Linked DNA regions of Homo sapiens: region 2 is linked to region 1. Evidence: fine-mapped expression QTL. A gene starts in region 1. The other region holds a variant in brackets. All regions are shown on one strand. Distances are between the middles of the regions. Region 1 holds the start of SGO1-AS1 (SGO1 antisense RNA 1). Region 2 holds the start of LOC101927829 (a long non-coding RNA gene).

Evidence for each region. PIP is the estimated chance that this variant, and not a neighbour inherited with it, causes the effect.
Region 2: its variant is the best candidate, but not a certain one, in a credible set for the expression of SGO1-AS1 in testis (GTEx, PIP 0.64).

The regions. Positions count from the first base shown.
Region 1 is chr3:20,170,326-20,178,325 of GRCh38, reverse strand. SGO1-AS1 (SGO1 antisense RNA 1) reads right to left here and starts at 4,040. Exons shown (of 4, transcript NR_132785.1): 1 at 3,801-4,040; 2 at 3,508-3,591; 3 at 1,076-1,109. It overlaps SGO1 (shugoshin 1), which reads left to right. Exons shown (of 8, transcript NM_001199251.3): 4 at 1-55; 5 at 1,667-1,725; 6 at 3,271-4,077; 7 at 7,094-7,283; 8 at 7,511-8,000. The coding sequence ends at 7,622.
Region 2 is chr3:20,339,093-20,356,459 of GRCh38, reverse strand. It overlaps LOC101927829 (a long non-coding RNA gene), which reads right to left and starts at 13,992. Exons shown (of 5, transcript NR_110814.1): 1 at 12,424-13,992; 2 at 10,678-10,800; 3 at 10,394-10,435; 4 at 8,371-8,463; 5 at 5,532-5,745. The variant A/C (reference allele first, on the strand shown) is at 8,371.

The DNA.
Region 1 (8,000 bases):
GAATGGACCCCAATAGTGATGACAGCTCCAGAAATTTATTTGTGAAGGATTTACCGTTAGTATCAAATTCTTTATCATGATTATTAATACTAAGAAAGGTTTAATTCTGTGATTCATTTATGAAAGGAAATGTGCATCATGTCAACTCTTATATTTGTAGTCTGTTGCTTTCTCTACTGAGAATATATTTAAGAGAATTTGATGTGTTGAAATTCTATTACATATAGCCAAGCTAAACCCTTCTTTTTCTTATATTTCACTCCTTTTTTGATGCCTAGGAAAAAGAAGCCTTACCACAGTTTTTAATTCTACTTCATACTTTCCTTCAGTCATACTTTTCTGTGTACCATGTTTTTATTCTAAGAAGGATTAGCTATTGAAATGAGATGTTTTGCCAGCCCTCTGAATAGTCTGGTTCAGAAAATAAATAAATAAATAAATAAATAAAATATCATATTTAACACAGTTGTCCCATTGTCTCGCTGATCCAGTTCATTTTTCTAGATCCCATATACCCTCCTCCCCTTCTCTTGGATCAAATGTACTTTGTTTGTTTATGAATTATTAAGATTTAATTATAAACAGTAAAATGCACAGATCACAGTTACAATTTGATGAGTTTGACTAATGTATATATCGTGGAACTAAAATTTCAATGAAGACATAGTGTTTTCACTGTTAACATTGTGGGCCAGATAATTCTTTGTTGTAGAGAGCTGTCTGTGCATGATGGGATGTTTAGCAGCATCCATAGCCTCCACCCAGTGAATCCCAGTAACATCATCAGGAGAACAAAAAATGACTTCAGATATTGTGGCATGTTCCCTGGAGAGCATAATTGCCCTTGGATGAGAACTACTGCCATAGACAGTTCTTTCGTATGCCTATCAAGTCCATCCCCTTCTCCACAGAAGTAACCACTAAGATGATTTCTATCACCATAGATTACTTTTAATCATTAGTAGTTTTTAAACTGTTGTACTTTAAGATCTGTTGTGGGCAAAAGGTAAGATAAGGTAATTGAATTTGTAGAAGATTTCTAAAGTAGTTATTATTTACCACAGCCATTACTTACCTAAATCTGTTTAATGTCTAGAGTAGAAAATTCTCTACAGAGAATAAAGAATAAAATTACAATTAGAATGAAACTGCCAGTAATAGTGTTAGAGTATAAAGAACACTTCATGTTTCATGAACCAAAGAACAACATTTGTAAAGAAAATGAACAATGTTAACTTCAGAAGAGTTCAATAGTTAAGCACCATAAAAGCATATATTACCAACAAATCACAGCTCTGCTAATGATAAAGCAGGCTCCTAAAGAGTTGAGTGATCAAACTACATTTTTTAAAAAACATTTAACAAATTAATTCTCATGGGCTGTTTCCGTAGTTAAATTGAGTTATATAATGTGTTTTCAGGTGGAACTCTCCAACTTGATAGGTTGGTTCTTCAAGTGGGAATTGAATGTCAGTCATAACAAATCAGTCTCCCTGTAATCAGCATAAGTGTCCTTTGGTTTCCTTTGATACAGAATAGATGTATTGATTTGAAATCGAATTATGAAATGATACTAAAGGAAAGAAAAATTATAATTTAGGAAAATACTGAATTTGTTTTTATTACATAATTGTTAAATTTCTGTTTTTCATTGGTATTTTCTAAGGCAAATTCCTCTTGAAGAAACTGAACTTCCAGGACAAGGAGAATCATTTCAAATAGAAGGTAATTCAAGTGAAAATCTAAAAATATTATTAAGGGCAAAATAAGGTCTTTGAGAACAAATAATACAATTAAATTTATCTAATTCTTTTTTTTTAACTTTTTAAATTTGTTCATCTGGTATTCTGCTCAAAGCAAATCTGTTTATTTTACACAGAGTAATAGAGTGTTAAAATATATTTATTGTGTCAAATCTGTAATCTGAATCTTTGGCTATAACTATGGCAGCAATTTACTGATTGCTACTACGTGTCAAGCTCTATGTTAGGCATTTTATGTGCATAATCTCACCTAACCCTCACAACAACCTAGGACTATAAGTACAGTTAGTCCTGTTTTATAGGAACTCAAGAAGGTAAAATATCTCACATGAAGAAGTCTAGATGTTAACAGCTAGCATTTAAAATCAAAGTTGAACTCCAAAGCCATCCCTTTCTTACTACTTTTAAATTGATATGTCCATGTTCTCAAGTGTCAATCTCCTCCACTTGAACCAAGCATTGAAGAAAGGATAGTATTTGAATAAGCAAAACCAGACGTCGAAGGAAGGATAGTATTTGAATAAGCAAAACCAGACATAGCCCCACTTTTCCTTAAAATACAAATTATATTTCTTACCTGAGAAGCTTTCTAGTTATTCAAATCTTATTTATTTTTCAAAGAACAACTTAGCTCCCACTTTCTCATTTGTCCCACTTTGGAATATGCGGTTCTACTTCTCTGAATCTGTACTCAATGATACATATAGACTATTCATTTTCTTTAAACCAAGAGCACATAAAAGCCTGTTATAATTTTTTTTTTTTTTGACAGTCTTGCTCTGTCGCCCAGGCTTGGAGAGCAGTGGTGCGATCTCAGCTCACTACAAGCTCTGCCTCCTGGGTTCACGCCATTCTCCTGCCTCAGTCTCCCGAGTAGTTGGGACTACAGGCACCCACCACCACGCCTGGCTAATTTTTTGTATTTTTTTTAGTAGAGACGGGGTTTCACTGTGTTAGCCAGGATGGTCTCGATCTCCTGACCTCGTGATCTGCCCGCCTCGGCCTCCCAAAGTGCTGGGATTACAAGCGTAAGCCACCGTGCCTGGCCTATAATGTTTTTAAAGATTATAAAGATTGAATGTCCCTTATCCAAAATGCTTGGGACCAGAAGTGTTTTGGATTTATTTTTTAAATTTTGGAGTATTTACATTATATCAGTTCATCATCCCTAATTTGAAAATCTGAAATCCAAAACCCTCCAGTTAGCATTTCCTTGGAGCATCATGACTGCACTAAAAAAGTTTTGGATTTCAGATTTTCAGATTAGGGATACTGAACCTGTACAAGATTCTTTCACATGTCAGATATAAGCCATCAGTTGATCACTGACAAGTAAATAGATGGTAATATTTAAGTTCCCAGGTTTTTATTTACAGATTTTATAATGTAGGAAAACTACAGAATGACCTTTTGGTCATTCACTTTTTTAGTTTGAATTCTAAAGTTCTTGAAATTCAAATTTCCACAAAGTAAAACTACTTTTCTCATTTATTTTTTAAATTCTCAGATCAGATACCTACTATTCCTCAAGACACACTGGGAGTTGATTTTGATTCAGGTGAAGCTAAGTCTACTGATAATGTCTTACCTAGAACTGTATCTGTTCGTAGCAGTTTAAAGAAACATTGTAACAGTATATGTCAGTTTGATAGCTTGGATGATTTTGAAACCAGTCATTTGGCAGGGAAGTCTTTTGAATTCGAAAGAGTTGGATTTTTAGACCCACTAGTAAACATGCACATACCTGAAAATGTACAACACAATGCTTGTCAATGGAGCAAGGACCAAGTTAACTTATCACCAAAGCTGATTCAGCCAGGAACGTTTACTAAAACAAAAGAAGACATTTTAGAATCTAAATCTGAACAAACTAAAAGTAAGCAAAGAGATACACAAGAAAGAAAAAGAGAAGAGAAAAGAAAAGCTAACAGGAGAAAATCAAAACGTATGTCAAAATATAAAGAGAATAAAAGCGAAAATAAAAAAACTGTTCCCCAAAAAAAAATGCACAAATCTGTCAGTTCCAATGATGCTTACAATTTTAATTTGGAAGAGGGTGTTCATCTTACTCCTTTCCGACAAAAAGTGAGCAATGACTCTAATAGAGAAGAAAACAACGAGTCTGAAGTGAGCCTCTGTGAATCAAGTGGTTCAGGAGATGATTCCGATGACCTCTATTTGCCCACTTGCAAGTACATTCAGAATCCCACGAGCAATTCAGATAGACCAGTCACCAGGCCTCTAGCTAAAAGAGCACTGAAATACACAGATGAAAAAGAGACGGAGGGTTCTAAGCCAACAAAAACTCCTACCAGTAAGTGATCTACTTGTTTACCTGTATTTTTAATGTTCGTGATAAATGATCACTCCTGATGCTTATATACTATACTTACCATCTGTTTCTCTGGTGGAGGTTGGAGACTTACCATCTGTCTCTCTTTGGTGGAAGTTATGGTCTGATTAAACAGTGGGGGGCTGGGTGTGGAAATCACAGTTGTATTGCTCTGACCTAATTCAGAGATTGCTTGTTATGGAGACAGAATTTTTATTTTCAGTAAATTAGGACTCCCAAGGGGACAGAGGGACTTTTTTGTAGACTTAGGTTGAATTGAAGTAGCTTTTATACACTTAACTGAAGTATCCCCTTGAAAGTGAAATCAAATTTGAATCCAGTGACTTGTTATTTTAATGGCCTTGTTTTATATTAAATTTGACAGGAACCGTGATTTAAAATAATCTTCTAGTTAGTGAAGATTTCCTCAATTGATAGGCTTAGTATTCTTTTGTACGACATCTCTAAAAACTGGCTCAGAAAATATTTTATTAGATCAAAAGTAGGCATAGTTCAAATGTTCGTAATACAACCTACACCTGTCCACAAAGATTCTCATTTGGCAATTTTAGTTAATACAAGTAAAACTAACATTTATAGTCAAGTTGTATCATTTTCAAAATATTGTCACATCATTTTATTTGATCCTCAGAACAATTCTGTGAAGTATAGGTGTTATGATGCTTATTTTGTTTGTAAGGAGATTAAAACCTTAAAAACCAAACCAACTTTCTAAATCGGCCAGTTAGTCAGTGGTAGCAGGCAAGTATCTTTTTTAAAAATATGCTGTAAGCCGGGCGGGTTGGCTCACGCCTGTAATCCCAGCACTTTGGGAGGCTGAGGTGGGCGGATCACCTGAGGTCAGGAGTCCAAGACCAGCCTGGCCAACATGGTGAAACCCCATCTCTACTAAAAATACAAAAAAATGAGCCAGGCCTGGTGGTATGTGCCGGTAATCCCAGCTACTCGGGAGGCTGAGGCAGGAGAAAAAGAATTGCTTGTACCCAGGAAACAGAGGTTGCAGTGAGCCGAGACCATGCCATTGCGCTCCAGCCTAGGCAACAAGAGCGAAACTCAGTCTCAAAAAAAAAAAAAGCAAAAATGCTATAATGATGTTAGAATAAATCAAACATGATTGTCAAAGTGTTGATAATTATTGGACCTGGGTAACTCAGAGTTTATTATACTGTTATTGCCATCTTTGTGTACATTTAAAAATGTCCAGAAAAAGTTGGGATTTTTTTGTTGTTGTTCACTTTTTAATTGAGACAGGGTCTTGCTCTATCACCTCGGCTGGAGGGCAGTGGCACTGTCATGGCTCACTGCAGTCTCAACCTCCCAGGCTCAAGTGATTCTTCCACCTCAGCCTCCCCAGTACTTGGGACTACAGGCATGCGCCATCACACCTGGCTAATTTTTTTTTTTTTTTTTTTTTTTTACTTTTTGTGAAGATGAGGTCTCACTGTGTTGCCAGGGTGGTCTCAAATTCCTGGGCTAAAGCAGTCCTCCTGCCTTGGCCTTACAAAGTGCTGGGATTACAGATGTGTGAGCCTGTATCCATAAAAATACATAAAATACATAAAAAATACGTTTTTAAACGAAAAAAATATACTCTAAAATGGTATTACTCAGAGTTTAATCCCTAGACGTCTTTTAAGAAATGCAGAATCTCAGGCCATACCCCATACCGTGGAGTCAGAATCTGCATCTTTTTTTTTTTTTTTTTTTTGAAACAGAGTTTCACTCTTGTTGCCCAGGCTACAGTGCAGTGGCACGATCTCAGCTCATCCCAACCTCCGCCTCCTGGGTTCAAGCGATTCTCCTGCCTCAGACTCCCGAGTAGCTGGGATTACAGGCATGTGCCACCACGCCCAGCTAATTTTGTATTTTTAGTAGAGACAGGCTTTCTCCATGTTAGTTAGGCTGGCCTCAAACTGCCAACCTCAGGTGATCCGCCCACCTCGGCCTCCCTAAGTGCTGGGATTACTGGCGTGAGCCACCGTGCCTGGCCATTAAGAAGTCCTCCTGTGGATTCATATACACATTAAAGTTTGAGAAGCATTTTTCCAGAATATAGCAACTGATCTGATATTGTTCCAAACAACATATTTCTCAAACTGAAAGTTGGAATAATTAATACAGTACAGTATATTTATGTGGGAACAAAAAGGACAGACTATAAAACCCAGATAACACTGGAGCATATGGCTCTTAGTATACAATCATTTCACAGTTATAGTTTTTACTTTTTTGGGGATACAGTTTGCTTTTTAAAGCTATTTGAGGAGATTGTTTTGCAGTGTCTTTACTATGTGTTGGACATTTGCCTCCCAATATAGGTGTAACTTCAAAGTATAATAACTTGGATGTTTATGATGGGAAAAACACTGAGTAACTTTTTTACATGCTAGCTTTTCTCCTGGTGTACACAGAGGCTGTTATTTAGAATTCTCATTTATTTAATAGAAGGAGTTTTAGCGGCTTTATAAGACTATAGGAAGAGACTTGATAATAAACCTTGGTATTGAAAGAGAGAGGACTTGATTCCAAATAGCAAGGTATGACTAAAATGAAATTCCATGGTTAAACAAAGTTATTATGCCCAAGCTATCCTAGAAGAATTTTAAGTTTTAGTAAAGTGTTCTGTTATAATTAATATTTCAACACTGTCTGGTTTGAAAGGAAGAGGAAAAAATGATGAAAAAGCTAAAAAAAGAATTTATTATTGGCTGGGCATGGTGGTGCATACCTGTAGTCCCAGCTACTTGGAAGACTGAAGTGGGAGGATTGCTTGAGACCAGGAGGCAGAGGTTGCAGTGAGCTGAGATCACACCACTGCACTTCAGCCTGGGCAACACAGTGAGAGCCCATCTAAAAAAAAATTCTATTATTAAATGCTGGATTTTGTGTACAGTTAAGATATATACAATTGAGTACAATTTAAGTTTTTGTGTGGGTTTTTTTTTTTAAATCATATTCAGTAAAAATTGTTTTGTAGCTACACCACCTGAAACTCAGCAGTCACCTCATCTTAGCCTGAAGGATATCACCAATGTCTCCTTGTATCCTGTTGTGAAAATCAGAAGACTTTCTCTTTCTCCAAAAAAGAATAAAGCAAGCCCAGCAGTGGCTCTGCCTAAACGTAGGTGCACAGCCAGCGTGAACTATAAGGAGCCCACCCTCGCTTCGTAAGTATTTGGTTTGTGGGAACTTATTTTTAATGATACATGTCGGGGGGAATAAGGTTATGGAGCTTTGTTCAAGAATGAGTTTTTTCTGAAATATAAACATTTGATTTAAAAAAACTGAAGTGAGAACATTTAAAATTGGTGTGTTTTACCATAACTTGGTAGGGAAGAGTAAGTTAATATTGGGATGCTTACATTATGCCTGAGATCTCTTTTTACTCTTACAGGAAACTGAGAAGAGGGGACCCTTTTACAGATTTGTGTTTTTTGAATTCTCCTATTTTCAAGCAGAAAAAGGATTTGAGACGTTCTAAAAAAAGTATGAAACAAATACAATGAAGGTTTTGTTGGATATTGTTTAAATTCAATCTACACCTCTTTCTGTTGCTTCAGGAGAGGATCTGTAAGAGTACACAAACAGAGTGAGCCATTGCCATAGAATATTCTCTTGACAGGACCCTAGCTCATAAACATTTCTTCAGAACTATACTTCAAATGGGATGCTTTGTATTAAAACTTTAATAAATTTAATTTATTTTTTCTTTTGAATATAAATAACTGAGCTTAAGCATTATCATCATATCGATTTCTTATGCTGCCTAAACCTCTTAATTTTAGTCGAAATATATCTTTTTTTTTTTTTGGAGGCGGAATTTCATTCTTGTTGCCCAGGCTGGAGTGCAATGGCACGATCTCAGCTTACCGCAACCTCCGCCT
Region 2 (17,367 bases), 170 kb before region 1:
AAGTTGAATCTCTGAATAGATCAATAACAGGTTCTGAAATTGAGGCAATAATTAATAGCTTACCAACCAAAAAAAGTCCAGGAACAGACGGATTCACAGCCAAATTCTACCAGAGGTACAAGGAGGAACTGGTACCATTCCTTCTGAAACTATTCCAATCAATAGAAAAAGAGGGAATCCTCCCTAACTCATTTTATGAGGCCAGCATCATTCTGATACCAAAGCCAGGCAGAGACACAACCAAAAAAGAGAATTTTAGACCAATATCCTTGATGAACATTGATGCAAAAATCCTCAATAAAATACTGGCAAACCGAATCCAGCAGCACATCAAAAAGCTTATCCACCACGATCAAGTGGGCTTCATCCCTGGGATGCAAGGCTGGTTCAATATACGCAAATCAATAAATGTAATCCAGCATATAAACAGAACCAAAGACAAAAACTACATGATTATCTCAACAGATGCAGAAAAGGCCTTTGACAAAATTCAACAACGCTTCATGCTAAAAACTCTCAATAAATTAGGTATTGATGGGACGTATCTCAAAATACTAAGAGCTATCTCTGACAAACCCACAGCCAATATCATACTGAATGGGCAAAAACTGGAAGCATTCCCTTTGAAAACTGGAACAAGACAGGGATGCCCTCTCTCACCACTCCTATTCAACATAGTGTTGGAAGTTCTGGCCAGGGCAATTAGGCAGGAGAAGGAAATAAAGGGTATTCAATTAGGAAAAGAGGAAGTCAAATTGTCCCTGTTTGCAGATGACATGATTGTATATCTGGAAAACCCCATTGTCTCAGCCCAAAATCTCCTTAAGCTGATAAGCAACTTCAGCAAAGTCTCAGGATACAAAATCAATGTACAAAAATCACAAGCATTCTTATACACCAATAACAGACAAACAGAGAGCCAAATCATGAGTGAACTCCCATTCACAATTGCTTCAAAGAGAAGAAAATACCTAGGAATCCACCTTACAAGGGACGTGAAGGACCTCTTCAAGGAGAACTACAAACCACTGCTCAATAAAATAAAAGAGGATACAAACAAATGGAAGAACATTCCATGCTCATGGGTAGGAAGAATCAATATCGTGAAAATGGCCATACTGCCCAAGGTAATTTATAGATTCAATGCCATCCCCATCAAGCTACCAATGACTTTCTTCACAGAATTGGAAAAAACTACTTTAAAGTTCATCTGGAACCAAAAAAGAGCCCGCATCACCAAGTCAATCTTAAGCCAAAAGAACAAAGCTGGAGGCATCACGCTACCTGACTTCAAACTATACTACAAGGCTACAGTAACCAAAACAGCATGGTACTGGCACCAAAACAGATAGTGATCAATGGAACAGAACAGAGCCCTCAGAAATAACGCCACATACTACACCTATCTGATCTTTGGCGAACCTGAGAAAAACAAGAAATGGGGAAAGGATTCCCTATTTAATAAATGGTGCTGGGAAAACTGGCTAGCCATACGGAGAAAGCTGAAACTGGATCCCTTCCTTACACCTTATACAAAAATTAATTCAAGATGGATTAAAGACTTAAATGTTAGACCTAAAACCATAAAAACCCTAGAAGAAAACCTAGGCATTACCATTCAGGACATAGGCATGGGCAAGGACTTCACAACTAAAACACCAAAAGCAATGGCAACAAAAGCCAAAATTGACAAATGGGATCTAATTAAACTAAAGAGCTTCTGCACAGCAAAAGAAACTACCATCAGAGTGAACAGGCAACCCACAAAATGGGAGAAAATTTTCACAACCTACTCATCTGACAAAGGGCTAATATCCAGAATCTACAATGAACTCAAACAAATTTACAAGAAAAAAACAAACAACCCCATCAAAAAGTGGGTGAAGGACATGAACAGACACTTCTCAAAAGAAGACATTTATGCAGCCAAAAAACATGAAAAAATGCTCACCATCACTGGCCATCAGAGAAATGCAAATCAAAACCACAATGAGATATCATGTCACACCAGTTAGAATGGCAATCATTAAAAAGTCAGGAAACAACAGGTGCTGGAGAAGATGTGGAGAAATAGGAACACTTTTACACTGTTGGTGGGACTGTAAACTAGTTCAACCATTGTGGAAGTCAGTGTGGCGATTCCTCAGGGATCTAGAACTAGAAATACCATTTGACCCAGCCATCCCATTACTGGGTATATACCCAAAGGATTATAAATCATGCTGCTATAAAGACACATGCACACGTATGTTTATTGCGGCACTATTCACAATAGCAAAGACTTGGAACCAACCCAAATGTCCAACAATGATAGACTGGATTAAGAAAATGTGGCACATATACACCATGGAATACTATGCAGCCATAAAAAATGATGAGTTCATGTCCTTTGTAGGGACATGGATGAAATTGGAAATCATCATTCTCAGTAAACTATCGCAAGAACAAAAAACCAAACACCGCATATTCTCACTCATAGGTGGGAATTGAACAATGAGAACACATGGACACAGGAAGGGGAATATCACACTCTGGGGACTATTGTGGGGTTGGGGGAGGGGGGAGGGATAGCATTGGGAGATATACCTAATGCTAGATGACGAGTTAGTGGGTGCAGCGCACCAGCATGTCACATGTATACATATGTAACTAACCTGCACATTGTACACATGTACCCTAAAACTTAAAGTATAATAATAAAAAAAAAGGTGTAGTGCTAATTTTGAAAGTCATGGTTTTTTTTCTGCTTACTTGAAACCATATTTTATTTGTAAATTTGTATACATTAAATGAAACAACAAAATCATTATATGTTTTTCCAAAATCTATAGTTAATAGGTCCTCTTTAAAAGCCACTTCCACCCCCTTACCCTCCAACCATCACACAGCCCCAGAAAAAATCCAAATGATCTGAAGTGTCAGATGCTCATCAGTATAGACATTTTTGTGCTGGTTTTACTAAGACTATAATCTTAGGAATGCAAAAGAAACTAATCCAGATTCAACCATCGAAACTAACAGACTTCTGCATTTGTATACTACATGTTACTCATGAGTAAGAACAACTATTCTCTAAAAATTAGAAACATCACCTGGGGAGGGATACTTGATTTTTTAAAATTTTATAGTAGATGGTGCTCTCTATTCTTCAGGAGAACTGTATACATAACCATTTCTCTCATTTGCAATCACTGCTCAATGGGCTCAATCTTTTATACAAACAACTCAAAAACCTCCACTAAATTCATTCTCTTTCTCCCTCTTGATATCTACACAATCACTCCCTAAAGATAAGCCTGTTATATAGTGGAAATAGTAAATACCTACCCTTCTCTCCCAGCACTTCATCTATTAGGAAAAGAACAGATGCTGGGTCAGTCATGTGCTAAGAATGAATGACATTAACACATCAGAAAAGTTGCTAGGGAGGAACACAACCCAAATGAAAGATCAGGGAAGGGGTGAGTCAGCAACGCTGGAGGAAGTCAACATCTGTGGCTTCTTGCTGGAGGGAAAGAAACAGTCCATTATCAGTAAACGGTGCTGGGAAAACTGATATCCATGTGCAGAAGAATGAAACTAGACCCCTATCTCTTGCCATATGCAAAAATAAAATAAAAATGGATGAAGGACCTAAATCTAAAACCTCAAACTATTAAACTACTACAAGATAATATTGGGGAAAGTCTCTAGGCCATTGGTCTGAGCAAAAATTTATTGAGCAATACCCCACAAGCACAAGCAACCAAAGCAAAAATGTACAAACGGGATCACAGCAAGTTAAATAGCTTCTTCCCAGAAAAGGATACAATCAACAAAGTGAAGAGACAACCCATATAATGGGAGAATGTGTTTGCAAACTACCCATCTGACAAGAGGGTAATAACCAGAATATGTAAGGAGCTCAAACAACTCTATAGAAAAAAATGTAATAATTTGATCAAAGAATAGGCAAAAGATTTCAATAGACATTTCTCAAAAGAAGACATACAAATGGCAAACAGACATATGAAAAGGTGCTCAATATCAAATCACCATTTGATTTGCATTCGAAATGCAAATCAAAACCACAATAAGATATCATCACACCCTAGTAAAAATGCCTTATATCCAAAAGACAGGCAACGACAAATGCTGGAAAGGAGGTGAAGGAAAGGGAACCCTCATACACTGTTGGTGGGAAGATAAATTAGTAAAAACATTATGGGGAACAGTTTGGAGGTTCCTCAAAAAAACTAAAAATTGAGCTACCATGTGATCCAGCAATCCCACTACTGCATATATACCCCAAAGAAGGGAAATCAGTATATTGAAGCGATATCTGCACTCCTATATTTGTTGCAGCACTGTTTACAACAGCTAAGAATTGGAAACAACCTGTGTTAATCAAGATATGAATATATAAAGAAAACGTGGTACATATACACAGTGGAGTACTACTCAGCCAAAAAAAGAATGATATCCTTTCATTTGCAATAACGTGGATGGAACTGGAGATCATTATGTTAGCTAAAATAAGCCAGACACAGAAAGACAAACACCACATGTTCTCACTTATTTGTGGGGTCTAAAAACCAAAACAATTGAACTCATGGACAAAGAGAGTAGAGGATAGTTACCAGAGGCTGGGAAGGGTAGTTGGGGGCTGGTGGGGTGGTGGAGATAGTTAGTGGGTACAAACAAAATAGAAAGGATGAATAAGACCTACTATTTGATAGCACAATAAGGTGACTATAGTCAATAATAACTTAACTGTACATTTCAAAATTACTTAAAGAGTGTAATTGGACTTTTTGTAACTCAAAGGATAAATGCTTGATGGGGTGAATACCCTATTCTCCATGATGTACTTATTTCACATTGAATGCCTGTATCAAAATATCTCATGTACTCCATAAATACATCCACCTACTATATACCCACAAAAATGTTTAAAAATTGAAATTAGAGGAAAGAAACAGTTCATAGATCTTGCTAGGTCTCAGCTTCACTATTGGGACACCTTAAATGGAGGAAAAACTTTACATTTTCTTTGTTTATTCATTCAACATATATTTATTGAGAACCTATTATACAACAGGTGCAGTCACTAGGAACTTACAAGATAATTAGGTACCTCTTTGTATGGAGCTTGTGTTCTAGTCTGGAAACTCCATATTACACTTTCTACAAGTCAAAGATGCCAAGGGAGCCCCACATGCTTTTCTTAGAAAAATAAATTGAAAATAAGTTATTTTTATGATCTTAGACTTCAATTATAAAGCTTCTAAAAGTATCCTTCCATGGTTTAAGATAGAAATCTCAGGACTTCGGTTTCTGAACTAAAAATCAGAACATAACTTCTGACAAGTAGTAGTTCAGCCATTTATCCAAAGACCTTAGGAGAGAGGTTTTTTTCCCTCCTAAGGTCTTTAAATACATTATTTGATTTGCTCCTGTGAGTTAGGTATTGGATCCCCATCTTCAGCTGAAAAATACAGAGCTTCAGAGAGATTAAATAGAGTCCCAGAGAAGCTAAGTAAGGTCACATATCCGTTCTTTCATTTTTGTTTATTTATTGAGTATTCATACTTACACATATTTATTGGGCATCCATATATTTTGGAATGCATTTATTGGGCATCCACTATCAATCATGGTGTGTGTGTATATTAGCCAAGGTTCTCCAGAGAGACAGAGAGACTTACAGAAATTGGCTCATGAGATTATGGAGGCCAAGAAGTTCCATGATCTGTTGTCTGCAAGCTGGAAAACAAGGAAAGCCAGTGGTGTGATTCAGTCTGAGTCAAAAGGCCCAAGAACCAGGTGCACCAATGTCCAAGGGCAAGAAAGGATGAGTGTCCCAACTAAACAGAAGCAAATTTGCCCTTCCTCTGCCCTTTTGTTCTATTCATGGCCTCAACAGACTGGATAATACCCATCCACATTGGTAAGGGTGATTTTCTTTACACAGACTCCCAATTCAAATGCTGATCTCTTCCAGATACACTGTCACAAACACAGACAGAAATTGTGTTTTACCAGCTATCTGGACGTCCCTTACCCCAATCAAATTGACACCTAAAATTAGCCGTCATGGTGTATACATGCTATTCTGGACAGGAAAGAGAACAATGAACAATAGAGACACCTCCCCTCTCCCGATCCCACCAAAAGAAAACACACCTGCCCTCATGGAGATTGCCTCCTGGAAGGAAGAAAAAAATGTACATGAATAAAATACATGCTTATTAGATAGTAAAACATACTAAAGGGAAGAATAAAGCAGGGGAAAAGGAAAGGATATGTTCACGTAGGTGCTTCAATTTCAGATAGGTAAGCCAAGGAAGGACTGTCTTAAAAATATGACAGGTAAGCAAACAGCCCAGGAGGTGAGGGAGTGAGCTATGTGGTTATGGGAGATGAGAGGAGCCCTCCAGTGTGAGATTACATAAGTGCAAAGAGTTGGGAGAACACTGACCCGAGTTGGGAGAATGCTGGCCTGGGTGGGGAGGACGCTGGCCTGTTGGAGTTTAGTCATGAGACCCACGGGCTGCAGTGGAATAATCAAGGGGATAAGCAGTAATAAAAAGGGTCAAGGAAGGAAAGAGATGAAAGACCAAGCCAAAACTTCAGCATTTACTCAGTCATTGTAAGAACGTTGGCTTTTACTCAAAGCTGAATCAAAGGAGGGTGCAGGGTATTGGAAAGGTGTGGTGTGACTTATATTTTAAGAGAATCACTTTGCCCGTTTTGTTGGGAATAGATGGTAGGGACCTAAGGGCAGGAGCAGTGAAACTAAACAGATTGCTCTTGCAACAGTCCCAGTGAAAGACAACTGTGGCCTAACCGGAGCTGTAGTAGTGAAGATACTGAGAAATGGCCATCCAGCTTCTGCATGTATTGTGAAGGTGGATCCAACAGGATTTTCTGACAGATCAGAAGTGGGTTGCAAGAATAAGAAAATAATCAGAGATTACCCCCCAATATTTTTGTCCTGAATAACAGGAAGAATAGATTGTCATTTACTGCAATAAGGAAAGATAATGGGACAGAATCCTTAAACTCAGAATCCATAAGGACTGTAAACTATAGGACAAGCCTAGTTCCATGTGAATTGTAATCTAAAAGTATTGTTTTCGTTTTCACTTTTCTAAATAACAGCAAGAAAAAAGCAAGCAGAAAGCAAATAGGGAAATAGACTTTTTTTTTTAATTAGTAAGAAAGTCTTTTTATAAACCTGTCATTCTGGATTTGTTTTTCACTGTTTCCCTGGCATATTTTCTCATTTCTACCAAAATCGATGTCTTAGTTTGGGTTCTCACAATTCTCAGCAAGCAGAAGCGTGGGTCACAGAAGTGGAACAGGGGAAGAGGGTCAGCCAATGCAAGGATGCATGGTGGAGCTAGTAACAACTGTGGGCAATGAGACTCAGTCCCAGTGGGTCTCTCTGAGAAGCCATGTAAAATGCATGTCAGAATTGTCCCTGTGACAACTCTGGGACATTTTCCACTGTCTTCCACCTCCGTTAGTTGAAGGCTGTCACCACAAACATGGACTCTGCCATTCTTATGGACAGTCTTTGTGGTGCTAAGCAGCCTTTGTAGGCATCAGAGGAAGCCCTGAGGCCAAAAATCAGAGCAATATCATAGTCAACACTTGAGTTGGGACACTGTCAATGTGCATGGAATTGTCTAAGTCACCTGACCTTAAATTAGGTGGGAAGGGGGTGATATGCCATGCAAGTCATCGCAAATGACTGCTACACTATGTTATCCGTGCTTCCCTACACCTGCCTTGTGCTTTCACCTCTCTATGCTTTGCTTGCTCTGTTTTTCTTCCCATCGCACTCCCAAACCCCTTATTATCTATGAGTTGTGACCAGCAGTCAAAGTTCTGGTGAAATTTCACTTCCTTTCAAGAACCTAGGACTATTTCCAGTTAGAAGTGCCTTCCACTCTTCTTAATGCCTACAGCATGAACACCCTTAACTTTGGACACTTAACTTCAATGCCTTATGGACAGTTAAATCTTTACATACATGCTTTAGCTTGCCAAGTAGATCTGGCCATCCTGGCCACATGATGGCCAGAATTCTTTGTATCCACTCTGTTGATTTATCCTACCCCATATAAGTGGATTTGACCTTCTCTGGTAGCAAAGAGGGGCAAAGAGAACAATCAAAATGGTCACCAGCATCTTGGGTTGCATCAGAAAGCCACTAGGAGAATGAACTTCCTTTATTCTCCCCAAAACTGACAGGCAGAACAGGCAATTCCACAACTATAAACACTTGGCATATTTACTCTGCTTGAAAGTCTCTGAAAACTCTAAAAAAAGTTAAGATTTTTTTTTTTTAATGAACCCTTTTGGCCAGGTGCAGTGGCTCAC[A/C]TCTATAATCCCAGCAGTTTGGGAGGCTGAGGAGGGAAGATCATTTGAAGCCAGGACTTCAAGACCAGTCTGATCAATATGGTGAGACTTCATCTTTATAAAAAGAAAAAAAAAAGTTAGCCAAGCGCGGTAACATGTGCCTGTAGTCCTAACTACTGAGGAGGCTGAGAAGGGAGGGTCCCTTGAGCCCAAGAGTTTGAAGCTGCTGTGAGCTATGATCGTACCACTGCACTGCAGCCTGTGTGACAGAGCAAGATCCTGGCTCAAAGAAAAAGGTCAGGAGCACCCTTTTTACATGGCAGGGAGGGGTATGGCTTGAAATAGCCTGATTAGGTTACAAATTGAATACATCTTTCTGCTGATTCAGATATCAGGTATAGGCTAGACAAAGGTAATAGCCAGAAAACTTCATTCCTCATATATTATATTTTGCAAATGGAAGATGAGTCTACAAACACAAGAAAAATGGGTGTAGTGGCAGACTCTTCTCTCAGAAAGGCAATGACATAGGCATAACCAATAATAGTACATACGGCCTGATAGAGGGAAGACAGGTGGGAGAAGCAGGGTCCTTGAGCATATTAAGAGCAACCCTAGATGTGGTAATATCTTGGTGGTTATATTATTTTTAATATCCTTATCAGTTAGAGATCCATACTGATATATTGATGTACAGCATAAAATGAGTCTAAAATTTGCTTTTAAAAATGCCAGAAAAAAAGATCACAAAATGTTTATATTTGTTAAAGCTAGGTCATGGGTACATGAGCAAAATCTATTTTGTATATCTGAGAATTTTCATTATAAAATATTTTTTCAAAAGAGCAACACACTAGGTCAGAAACTTGTGTACAGCTGAGGTATCAAGCTGTGAGCCTCTAACTGTAGCAGCTGCTATAGCACCAATAAATAGAAAATTCATGAACCTTTATTGCTCATCATCACTCAGGCATTGCTGCATGGAGTGGGAAGGTTTCCCCACACTAGGGAACGGGGAGTCCTGGTGTAGTAAAAAATGTGATCGCAGTCTTGGTTGCCTGCACAAACTCTTCCCAGATCCCACCCTGTCTCCCTTTCCCTCTCAGTATAGTTAACAGAATGTCACAGCCACAGAGTCCCTTGCTCTTCACCATATCTGCAGCTTCAAGCACCTTGTTGACCATAACATTTGTTTTCTTGCTGACCAATTCATATTCCTCTAATCCTGCTATTTCAATACATTTAATTCTTACCCAAAAACAAGAGCATGACCTCCTCTAATAGAGTAATTTCCCGTTCATATTACTTAACTGAACAATGTTTTTTGATACTAACATGAATATCTCCCCTATTCAGTAATAACTACCATTCTGCCATTCAGCTTGTTTTCTAAATTTAATCTCTCTCAAAAATGGATTCAGGTCTGCATTGACCCAAACTCTCCTTTCCAACCAATATTTCCTTCACTTTCCAACTACCATAGCTCAGAACTAAGCAAAGGCTGATATCTAGTAAACAGTCCTTAGTTTTACTCATTGAGCTACTAACTAAATCCAGAGATTTAGGCATGAAACCTTCATTCGTTCATTCATTCATTCATTCATCCAAAAAGCAATTAACAAGCACCTATTATATGCCATGTCCTGGATCTATGAAAATAAATTAGGTGTCAACTTTGAAGAAAGTCATAATCTAACAGGAGATAAGTATATAAGCAGCTGCAATTAGGTTATTTTTCAAAATGTAGTTAGAAATATATATTTAATATGTATAATATATAGTAGACATATATATATTTCTAACTACATTTTGAAAAATAACCTAATTGCAGCTGCTTATATACTTATCTCCTGTTAGATTATGACTAACATATATATATGTCTAACTACTGTATATTTATTAAATATGTATTTCTAACTACTATATATTAGAAATATATATAGAAATATATTTCTCTGTGTGTGTGTGCATATATATATATACACACACACACAAATACACACATATATACTAGATTAAGTGGCAACATCAATGATATACTCACTTTGACTTCTTGGAGTTAGAAGGTGGAGGTATGTAGAGGAGGCTTCCCAAAAATGAAAAAAAATTTGATTTTAGCCCTACAAGATGGAATAGCAGTTCGTCAGGCATATGTAAAGAATTGGAGATACAGGCCAGGCGCAGTAGCCCATGCCTGTAATCCCAGCACTTTGGGAGGCCAAGGCAGGTGGATCACCTGAGGTCAGGAGTTCGAGACTAGCCTCACCAACATAGAGAAACCCCATCTCCACTAAAAATACAAAATTAGCCGGGCGTGGTGGTGCATGCCTGTAATCCCAGCTACTCAGGAGGCTGAGGCAGGAGAATCGCTTGAATGAACCCAGGAGGCAGAGGTTTCAGTGAGCCGAGATCATGCCATTGTACTCCAGCCTGGGCAACAAGAGTGAAACTCTGTTTCAAAAAAAAAAAAAAAAGATTTGGAGATATAAATTAGTAAAACTGTGTGAAGCTAAAATTAACAATGGGAAATCGTAAGACATAAGGTAGGAGGGGTAGAATATAAAGGTTCTAATGCTGTGTACTTTGAGACTTACTCCACAGAAAATAGAAAGTCACTAAAAGCTTTTAAGTAGAGCTGCCAAACAACAGTATTTGCATTTTAGAAAAATTACCCTGGAGTAGAGTAGGAGATGACTTTGAAAGCTTGGGGTGAGGCAATGGAGCAGAGCAATGAGGCAGCATCAGCAGTTACAGGATGATCATAGCTATTCAAAGGAGAGAAGATGCAGACCTGAATAAGGTGAATTGGACTGATCCATAAATGAATGTACCAGCCTGATTTAAACTTTTATTTTTCCCTAAAAGGGCATTTCTTCTAATAAGTTATCCTGAGCATTTTTAAGGGAAAAATCTAGGAGCAGAGGACAGATTATATGGTTTGGTTGGCTCTGTGTTCCCACCGAAATCTCATCTCAAATTGTAATCCCCATAATCCCCACGTGTCAAGGGAGGGAGCTGGTGGGAGGTGATTGGATCATGGGGGCAGTTTCCTCCATGCTGTTCTCATGATAGTGAGTTCTCACAAGATCTGATGGTTTTATAAGTGTTTGACAGTTCCTCCTTCACACTCACTCTCTCTCTCCACGTGCCATGTAAGACATGCCTGCTTCCCTTTCTGCCATGATTGTAAGTTTCCTGAGGCCTCCCCAACCATGAAGAATGGTGAGTCAATTAAACCTCTTTTCTTTATAAATTACCCAGTCTCAGGAAGTTATTTATAGTGGTGTCAGAAGGAACCATACAACAGATAACTAAGAAATCTACAAATATGGTATATACACCATGCTATTCTCTATTACTCATTCAAAGTTTCCCTTTTCTCTCCCTCCCCAAGTGCTTTCAGCATGATCAGGTTTCATGTCTGTGCCAACCTCCTATCAGCCATTTCTTGTCTTTTTTCTTTCTAATTTTGAGCTCTGACCTTTACTGTTATTCAAATCTTGGTTTTATACTGCAAAGGCTCTTAATTCCAGAATGATGGCCAAGTGAGCCAAACACATTTACCTAAGTGGACAAGAATGTGACATTGTCATGCAGCCATTGTGATGTACCAAAGTCAAGATTGATTTTGACAAGAATAAAAGCTTTCTGTCCTGCTGCCCCTGCTTTATGGGATTTTTAGGGTTTGGAGAAATATCCATTGTCTCTCCTAAAATTCTTGAATGCCCATGTAAGATTGAATGCTATTTCGATAAATAAGCCATTTAATAGTGACAGTTTATATACCAGAATTACTCAGTTGGCTGTTCTTGAATTGTTCATTTTATTTGTCAAGTTCAGGGGAAGTTAGTTTTGGCCAAGTATTTTTTGAATTTTGTTGCAAAATCAAGTTCCAGGTGGTGAGGTCCCAAATAACAGAAGATATGGCAAAAGTCTCAAAAGCATTACAGGTTTAATTAAATTAGTGTTTATTGACCACCAACATAGGTATATTCTATTATAGATAAGCTAGAGTCCATTCTTTGAGAGAAACAAGCCAGGCAATTCTTCGAGGCAGACAGTTACAGAACTGACCTGTACAGACAGGTACAGATGGTATACCAAGCAGGGTTCCTGACGTCATTGTTGCATGGTCGACATCCAATTTGACTGCTACATCCTCCTTTTCATGGAGCCTTGACCACTTCTGCCCTTCTCTCTACATCTTTTTCCTGGCTTCCAAGAACTAAAAGACTGTTCCCAGCTGTCCTAATGATCCTACTTTTCCACCATTCCAACATATCCCTTGATCTGAAATTGCCCTTTCCTTTTCCTTCTTCAATTCCCTCCAAACAAGACCTCTATTTCACCTTCTAAGTTAGGTGTTAGGAGAAAAGCAATCAAAATGCCTCCAGACTAAATCAATTCACACAGAAGTATAGGTGGTAGGAGGCTTAACTTCTATGGCAGCTTTTAGAAGACCTGTTATTCCAAATGGATCTTTGATTGGTGGGATGTGTGAAGGAGTCATTTTTGAGACGTAGGGAATCATACTTTTTTCTTATCTGTTTATGCTGGCCAGAGGCCCTACTTTCAATTTATTTTCTGCACAAAAATCCCCTTCTGAACTAAAGCCAATGCATGCTATTTGGTTTACTTATACCTTAGTGCTGTGATTCTCTAGCTTAGGTCACCAGGTCATAATAAAGGACCACAACAGGAACCTGGCTTGGTTTTACATTTCTTATAGTCTGTAGTTGAGTTCCTTCTCTAAAGCCATGTTCACACATCTGAAATTTTCCTAGATAGACTTTTATGGCTTCTGGTAAAGATAAAAGTTATATTGATTTTCTGTTGCATTGTTAACTTATCAAATAGCAAAATATTTAATTTGGAAGATAAAAAATAGTTTTAAATTTTTTCTTAAAAATGGTGGTAGAATAGTGACCACACTGCATACCCTCTTATGAGAGTGAATTAACATGGAGACCACAAACAGAGGAGTTAATTACATCTTTGTGGTATTACATCCTAACATCAACTCTGCATATGGATAAACCTGCCCTTAGAAAATCCCTAACATCCCCCATTAAAAAAAAAAAAATGAGCAATTAAGAGCCACAAACACTGTTTCTCACTAATCCTGTTACAGTGAGGTCTGCCTCCCATATCAGTTCAGATTGCTGTTTCTTCAGTTGCCCACCAGATAAAACCATGATTTGCATTCAGGGACTACATTGTAAGAAAAGTACGTTTCTTTTAATAGTAGACACACTTGGCCCTGGAATTCCTTTCAGTTAAATACCTACATAGATAGAGGTCACTGTATATTTGCCCCCCTTTGTTTAAAGAGCTAAAATTCTGTCCTCACAGTGTCTATAAGCTCGAGAATCACAGCACTAAGGTATAAATAAACTGAAGAGACTGTCCCTCATGCATGCTGTGACAGAAATCAGCTTTCAGACTAGGTGTGCTGAGTCCCAAACCTGTGCTACATCCCTGCTACAAAAACTGAAAAGCAAGCCTAAAATTCACTATAGGTTCCTAGAAAATCAAACCTTAGATATAAGACCAAGTTATACTATCTTATTCTCTCAGCAAATCCTTAATATGTTTCTTCTCTGTGCCAGGTGTTAGTTAAGCTCAGGTGATACAAAGTTGAATGAGATAGCACCCCTGCCTTCTTTGTCCCAGCTCATAGTTTAATGACATAATCAGGTGGTCACAATACAGTGTAATACAGTGCTGTGACAGAGAGAGAAGCTACAGACTGAGGGCACACAGGGCCAGGGCTCCTAACCCACCTAAGGCAAAGGGTAAGGCAGGGGACATCAGGGAAAACTATTAAAGAAGGAGGCATCCTGAGAGCTGGGATTGTATTTTTTATTTATGGTTTTATTTTTTACCTTTGTATTTTGATGTAATTTCAGGCTAACAAAAGTTGCAAGAACACTACAAAGAATTCTCATATGCCCTTTAACCAGATGTACTAAATGCTATTATATCAAATATGCTTACATACAGATATGCACATACACGCACAAACACACACACACAAATATACATTTCTTTTTTCAAAAAAAATTTGGGGCTGGGCGCGGTGGCTCATGCCTGTAATCCCAGCACTTTGGGAGGCTGAGGTGGGTGGATCACTTGAAGTCCTGACTAGGAGTTCCAGCCAGCCTAGTCAAATGGTGAAACCCCGTTTCTATCAAAAATACAAAAATTAGCTGGGAATGGCGGTGCACGCCTGTAATCCCAGCTACTTGGGTGGCTGAGACAGGAGAATCCCTTGAACCCAGGGTGTGGAGGCTACAGTGAGCCAAGATCGTACCACTGCACTCCAGCCTGGGCAACAGAGACTCTGTCTAAAAAAAAAAAAAAAAAAAAAAAAAAAAAAAATTGAGAGTAACTTACAGAAATTATGATGCCCCATTTACTCTTGAAGATTCTGGTGTATATTTCCTAAAAGCAAGGACATTCTCTTCTGTAGCCTACAAGTAACAAAATCAGGTAATCAATACTGATACAATACTACGATCTTATCTACAGACCTTATTCAAATTTCACCAATTGTCCCAATGTGTACTCTACAGCAGAAGAAATCCCCAGCTCATATGCTGCATTCAGCTTTCATGTGTCTTTAGTATCCTACAATCTGGAACAGTTTCAGATTCTTTCTTTGTCTTTCATGACCTTGTAATTTTTAAAGTGCAGAGTCTAGTTATTTAGTAGAATGTCCCTGAATTTACGCTGGGCACAGTGGCTCACGCCTGTAATCCCAGCACTTTGGGAGGCCGAGACGAGCGGACGACCTAAGGTCGGGAGTTCGAGACCAGCCTGACCAACATGGAGAAACCCCGTCTCTACTAAAAATACAAAATAAGCCGGGCGTGGTGGCACACACCTGTAATCCCAGCTACTCGGGAGGCTGAGGCAGGAGAATCACTTGAACCCAGGAGGTGGAGGTTGTGGTGAGCCGAGATTGTGCCATTGCACTCCAGCCTGGGCAACAAGAGCAAAACTCTGTCTCTCAAAAAAAAAAAAAAAAAAAAAATGTCCCTGAATTTAGTAGAATGTCTCTGGTTTGGAACTACTCTAAACTGTTTCTCGCGGTTAGATTTGGCATAAGCATTTTTGGCAGAAATATCACGAAGGTATGTTGCGCTTTTTGAGATGAGTTTCAAAGAGTGAAGAGGAATCAGCCCACATAACCTATTGCCATATTAATTTATTTTTGCATTCAGACTTGGGAGGATGGAAGACAGAAGGCAAAGGGATAGCCTATAATACTATTAAATAATATTTATCAAGTAGTTACCAAGCACTGTTTGGAATGTGTTACATAAGTTAACTTCATCATCTTCGCAACACCCTTATGACATCCTCACCATGACTATGCTTTTCCCATTTTTCCAATGAGAAATAATCAGGCACAAAAAGATGATGAAGCTAGCGCATGGTGCAGCCAGTATTCAATTCCGGGCAGATTGACTCTTGCCCATTCTGTCAGAAGGGACTTAGTGAAAGCAAAACGCTTACCAAAAAAAAGGCTTGTGTCTTCAGAACGAGTTGGCTTGGAGGTGTGTAACTGGTCCAAGCAACTGGGTGTGGCTCTCCCGCCCTCTGCTGGCTGAATCCCTTATTGCATCCTTTTAACTGCTTTTTGCTCAATTGGATGGTGACTGCAGGGTAAAACCTCCATGTGAGCAACAATCACTGAAATTTCTGCAAAACTCCTGAGTTATGCCTGACCTATGAGAATGCATAAGAATTGGGCATTCCTTCCATTTTTCTTTTTTGTGTGCCTCAGTCCCCTACCACATTCTAAAGATTGGTCAGCAGAATAAATCCTAAGCCCTCTCTTCACCAACTTCTTTTATAAAACTTCCCAGGAGAATTTTTTTTTAACTATGACAAATTTGGAATCCACTGAAGCAGTGAGAAAGCTAACGTTGAATTAATCAGAATACAATCCCCAGACAAGACAATCATTACAGATGAGAAAACCTGTAGGAAGGATGTTTGTCCTTGAAAAATATTTGAAAAAGATCCAGTGTGAAGCAGTCATCTCACAGTAGGCTCCAAAGTGTCATATAAGACAAAATCACTAGGCAAATAAGATGAAGGAGAGGAAAAACTCCTTTGAATGAGTCATAAGTAGCCTCTATTTTCAATCAAAAATCCTTTCTCTTTCCAGGTAAAACCCTGTCCCTCTGAAATTCACAAACCCCTGGGGCTTCCACAAAATTCAATTGTTTTCTCTAGTAAGAGGAAGAAATGGACGTAAAATAAAACCAGAAGACAATGAATGGGCCTTAAAAGGATGGCACACTGATTCATTCCATACATGCCAGAAATGGACCTGGCAAAAGAAAAAGAGTGTGTTTAAATTCCCAAATGATAACCTGGGAGCAATTCTGTTCATTGTGCCTGATTGCAAATACAAATATACTAGTGGCCATTATTAAGCCACATCTAATGTCCCAGGGGAAAGAACTCTTTACTGAAATTTTGAGAACACTCACACTGAACACAAGAATCCCATCTAAGTATTTACTTGATAACTTCTAGATGCCTGTCTGTTTATCTGTCAGGTTGGGAGAGACACAAATACATTTGCATATGGCTACTACCAGGCTGAAGGCTGAAACCTTTGCCCCCAGATCAAATCAAATCAGTAGATAAATGTCCCATGGTAGGTGATTGAGCTAAGCAACGACTTCTTATTTATTTTAATGAAGTATCAAGATTTCCATGAAAAATTATCAGAACTTTATATGTATAATCCATCTGGAAACTAATCCCCTAAGCTATATTGTGGCATTATTGTCACAATAACACTGCATAACAACCAACCACGAAACATCAGCAGCATTCGACATTAAGCATTTATTGCTTACATGTCTGGAGTTGTCAACTACATGGCTCCGCTGATACTACTCTGGGGCTGATGAGACTGTGTCTTTCATCATGCAGAAGCTAGGCCAGTAACGTTCTCATAGCAGTGTTCTCAGCCAGACGACAGAAACATGCAAT